Regions from separate parts of the Homo sapiens genome. Here region 1 is linked to region 2. The links come from fine-mapping of genetic effects on gene expression. Tissue or cell type: tibial nerve. Region 2 holds a variant in brackets; the other region holds the start of a gene. All regions are shown on one strand. Distances are between the middles of the regions.

The links. PIP is the estimated chance that this variant, and not a neighbour inherited with it, causes the effect. A credible set is the group of variants that fine-mapping cannot tell apart.
Region 1: IL2RA starts here. The variant in region 2 is the best candidate, but not a certain one, in a credible set for the expression of IL2RA in tibial nerve (GTEx, PIP 0.63).

What each region holds. Positions count from the first base shown.
Region 1 is chr10:6,060,946-6,063,913 of GRCh38, reverse strand. IL2RA (interleukin 2 receptor subunit alpha) reads left to right here and starts at 1,547. Exons shown (of 8, transcript NM_000417.3): 1 at 1,547-1,826. The coding sequence starts at 1,763. RefSeq lists a cis regulatory region at 1,164-1,794 and an enhancer at 1,787-1,836.
Region 2 is chr10:6,039,427-6,041,926 of GRCh38, reverse strand. The region is part of intron 1 of IL2RA (interleukin 2 receptor subunit alpha); the gene reads left to right. Among named protein-coding and RNA genes, the nearest start is that of IL2RA-AS1, 5.3 kb to the right of the region's middle. The variant G/A (reference allele first, on the strand shown) is at 1,332.

The sequences.
Region 1 (2,968 bases), 22 kb before region 2:
CCAAGATTGTGCCATTGCGCTCCAAAAAAAAAAAAAAAAAGACATTAACATAAATTTAAATATTTTATAATGACAATCCACATTAACTACTTAAAGCATAAGCTATTTTCCAGGAGAGGCAGCAAGTGCATTCTACTCCCATGCCCAAGAAGAAAGGAGCGTGACTTTGGTGGGAGTACTAGGAGTTTCTACTGGAGCACTTGCCCGCAGAGTGAGAAACGTTCCTAGAGAGGAAGTTATACCTGCTGTGGAATTTAAGAGAATCTTGTCATATTTTGACAAGTTTTTTGAGATGGAAGTCTCACTCTGTCGCCCAGGCTGGAGTGCAGTGGCGCAATCTCAGCTCACTGCAGCCTGCACCTCCTCGGTTCCAGCTATTCTCTTGTCTCAGCCTCCTGAGTAACTGGGATTACAGGCGCCCGCCACTACGCCTGGCTAATTTTTGTATTTTTAGTAGAAATGGGGTTTTACCATGTTGGCCAGACTGGTCTCAAACTCCCGACCTCAGGTGATCTGCCTGCCTCAGCCTCCCAAAGTGCTGGAATTACAGGCGTGTGCCACTGCGCCTGGCTAATTTTTTTTTTTTTTTTTTTTTTTTTTTTTTTTTAGTAGAGACGGTGGTTTCACCATGTCATCCAGGCTGGTCTCAAACTCCTGACCTCAGGTGATCCACCCACCTTGGTCTACCAAAGTGCTCGGATTACAGGCATGAGCCACCAGGCCCAGTCAACGTGATGTGTTTTGGAACCCTGAATTCCTTGGCTTGCCCGGAGGGTTTTCTTTTTGTTAATATCTTTGCTTGCTTTCTAGTATTTAAAAAATTGTGTTTTGCTCTAACTATGCAATGGCTTTAAGTCTTAGACAAATTTCCAGGGAGCAAAACACACTCAACCATTTCATAATAATCAGAAGAGAGCTCTGATCAATAAATAAGCAAGACTGAATTTTACAAAATAATCCAAAGTTTAAAACCAAAGCCCACTTTTTGCATGATCCTTTAAGAGAAAGAAATCTGGAAGCAAAACACCTTATAAAATGACAATGCACTTTCAGGAGCCCAGGGCACTGTGGTGAAATGATGATGGCTAGTACAGGTTATAAGCCTTGGGGAATTATTTATGAATTCTCAGGATCCTTCAGTTCGCCGCATCCTTCTCCATTATTTGAATATTGGAGGCTGCCTGACCAGAATCTTGTCAGGACTTTGCTCCTTCATCCCAGGTGGTCCCGGCTGACTCCTGAGGACGTTACAGCCCTGAGGGGAGGACTCAGCTTATGAAGTGCTGGGTGAGACCACTGCCAAGAAGTGCTTGCTCACCCTACCTTCAACGGCAGGGGAATCTCCCTCTCCTTTTATGGGCGTAGCTGAAGAAAGGATTCATAAATGAAGTTCAATCCTTCTCATCAACCCCAGCCCACACCTCCAGCAATTGAACTTGAAAAAAAAAACCTGGTTTGAAAAATTACCGCAAACTATATTGTCATCAAAAAAAAAAAAAAAAAAAAACACTTCCTATATTTGAGATGAGAGAAGAGAGTGCTAGGCAGTTTCCTGGCTGAACACGCCAGCCCAATACTTAAAGAGAGCAACTCCTGACTCCGATAGAGACTGGATGGACCCACAAGGGTGACAGCCCAGGCGGACCGATCTTCCCATCCCACATCCTCCGGCGCGATGCCAAAAAGAGGCTGACGGCAACTGGGCCTTCTGCAGAGAAAGACCTCCGCTTCACTGCCCCGGCTGGTCCCAAGGGTCAGGAAGATGGATTCATACCTGCTGATGTGGGGACTGCTCACGTTCATCATGGTGCCTGGCTGCCAGGCAGGTAAGGGCCTGTGGGTGCCCCCGGAATTCCGGGAAGGCTGATGGGCATCCCTCTTCCCAGCCACAGAACCAGAGGGAGTCCCCAGGTAGATGGTTCCAAGAAGGGAGTTGAATCTTGGGTTCCACCTCTTGCCTGTGACCCACGGGGACCCCAGTTTATGCCTCACTGTTCCTTGGTCTGTCAAGAGAGCCTGAAATAGCATTAGGTTCTCCTGTCCTTCTCAGTCCTTGACAATTAATTCTGGGAAGAATAGTGTGGCATGATATTTGGGATATTTGGATGTTAACAGGGTCCCGATGAGCAGGTTTCTCAAGAAATTATCTTTTATTCTTCAATGAATTTCCTTTTATTCTCTGCACTCCCACCCCCCAACTAAGAAGCTATCAGGAAGCTCTTTAAGTTCAGGTTAATTTGCTGGAGACATGAGTACTCATATATCAAACACTGGGAGAATTTAAGATCTCAGAAAAGTTTAGCTTCAAGGATGTATACACTGCTTTTACGTCTTAGGAAATAACACCTAGGAATTTCCTTACAAGTGCAACTTTACAGAAATTTTTAAAAATATGCATACTCACTTTTAGAACATTACTACTTCTCATAATCCTATGTATATACATGATATGTATATGTATACGTGTTTATATATGCAAATTTTAAATTTCATTCCTTGTTTCAAATGGATTTTCTCGAAGATTTTTTTTTTTTGACACTGTCTCTGTCAGCCAGACTGGAGTGCAGTGGCGCGATATTGGCTTACTGCAACCTTCGCCTCCCAGGCTTAGCGATCCTCCCACCTCAGCCTCCTGAGTAGCTGGGACTACAGGCATACGCCACCACACCTGGTTAATTTATTTTTTTGTAGAGATGGGGTTTTTGCCATGTTGCCCAAGCTGGTCTTGAACTCCTGGGCTCAAGTGATCCACTCACCCTGGCCTCCCATACTGCTGGTACTACAGGCATGAACCACCGTGCCTGGCCAATATTTTTTTTTAAAGAAATAAAAAACCACCAACTTCTACCTCAAACCACTCTTCCTAATTGAGTGTGAATTTTCTAATAATGTCTTCCCTTTGCTTACTCAGGAAGACAGATAAGAAAGTTTATAGTGTTTTTTGAAAGTCTATAATGGCAACAAGTAG
Region 2 (2,500 bases):
GGCTACCTTATCAACAATATGTATTGTTGAGTGTTTACAGGGTCAAGATTATTATAACTTCCACAGTGATATTTATCTGTGAAAATACTTTTTTGGTCTAGTTTCTCCTGTTACTAAAGCTATCGAGCTTTCTTTTGGTTGCTAAATATCTGCATATAATGTGTTTTCCAGCCCTTTAGTTCAACCTTCACATGTCACTGTATTTTAAAGACGTCTCTTGACATAACAAAAATAGACCTTGTGCAGGACTTTGGGGGAAATTTTTCCCCCTCAATCAGAATACCTCTGTCTTTTACAAGCAAGCTTAATTGATTTATATTTATTGTACTACATTTGGACTTATTTATGCTATTTTACTTTGAACTTTTATTAACCATTATTTTTCTTTTACTGTTGTATTTATCTTTTCTTGTCTTCTGTTAAATTGATTGAGTTTCCTTTATTTTCTCTTTTCCTTCTACTGGTTTGTGTATTATATGTTTTAATTCTACTTTTAGAATTAAGTCACCATTGGCCGGGCGCAGTGGCTCCCCCCTGTAATCCCAGCATTTTGGGAGGCCGAGGCGGGTGGATCACGAGGTCAGGAGATTGAGACCATCCTGGCTAACACAGTGAAACCCCGTCTCTACTAAAAATACAAAAAAATTAGCTGGGCGTGATCGTGGGCGCCTGCAGTCCCAGCTACTCGGGAGACTGAGGCAGAATGGCCTGAACCCGAGAGGCGGAGCTTGCAGTGAGCCAAGATTGCACCACTGCACTCCAGCCTGGGAGACAAAGCGAGACTCCGTCTCAAAAAAAAAAAAAAAAAAAGAATTAACTCACCCTTTAAGTTCTCAAAGTACTCGTGATGTTAAAAGTCCACAGTTAATTAACATCTCTCCCAGTTCCAGGATCTTCTGTTCAGAACTTAGCACATTTCTGGCAACTAAGGATTGACAACTGTTAAAAAATATCATTTCCCATTATATTTTTGGATTGGTTGTTGCTGATATATAAAAAATGTTGAATTTTATAAATGAATTTTCTATCTGGCCACCTTATGAAACTCTTAATAGTTCTAATACTTTAACCGTCTTGGGTTTTCTAAGTACTTAATTAAATTCCTCACATAGAATGATTATTTTTATCTTCTCTTTTTCCAACAATTGTATGCCTTATCTATGTTACCAGTTTTATCAGATCACTAATAACGAGGGTTCTTTTAAAGTCAATTGGAGTGAGAAAAACCCAAAGATGCCATTAAGTCCTTGAGTGTCTTTGGGGAAGAAAAGGTAGGTTTAGGAAAAGAGAGACAAAAGGCAAAGTGAACAACTAAGACAATACCATGTATT[G/A]CAAATTTAGGTGTGATTTAATGATGGCTAAGAAAAAATTCTAAATTATATATAAAAGTGTATTCGTATATAAGGTAGTTTAAATAAATAACAGGTAATGTGGGCAGGCAACAACCATCAAAAATGACTGGAAATATTCAAATTCAACCATGGTGATTTGGTTGGCAGCAATCAGAGAATTGACTATGCTTCAGTAGATTGAAATCCGTTATAATCTATTAATGTGAATACAGGTGACAGGAAACAACCGAATACAGCATTCTCATAAATAGTTCTTAGAATATGAATTCAAAAGAAACTCTATTTCCTCGTTGTGACACAATCAAGCTTTAAGCAATGAACGCTTTAATTATTGTTTTTCAGCTTAGAAAGTAACTATATATTTTATCATTGGGTTCTAAAAACAACACCGCTCAAGAGGTCATTGTAGCAACAATCAAAATTTGTGGAGCATTTTACAGATTTCAATGTCACTTATGTTATTTCAACTGATCCTCATATTTCCATCCTTCATACCCTCACGATTCATGCTTCAGCAAAACATTCTACCTGTAGTCTCTTGTATCTTCCATATGATGATGCTGTTTTACACTTTTACACATTCTCTGCCAGAATGGCCTGACGTGCCTAACCTTCCAGTTGAACTCCCACCCACCTTTCAGGCACCTTATAGTTAAGAGCAGCCTTCATTCTGTTGCCTGGCTCATGGGCAGGGGCAGGATTCCCAGCAAGGGGTACTATGTCAAGAGGCCTAAAAGGACATATCAGCATGGTAAAAGGAAATGGCTTGGGGTGTATGAGAAGCTCCTATGGTTACATGATTGGGAGGAATTCTTTTCATTTCGTGTTACAGACGGAGCATCTGAAATGAGAAGGGACCACAGTGAGCCAGTGAGTGAAAGAGGAGGAAGATTCTGACACCCAGAGCTTTACCTTCAACATTTCCTTCTGTTTATTCCTTATCTAGACTTCCATTTTCCTACCCCATAGATACCCACTCTTTGCCCCTAACTTGCCTTCAACTCCTCTACTGCCTTGTAAATGTCCCATGTGTGCTTGAAAAAAGAGTGGGCTCTGCTATTGTTGGAATCAAATTTGTTAATTGTGGTTATCACATTTGATTGTTCTTACTGATTTTCTGTCTGTCCTATCCATCATAAAGGAAGACA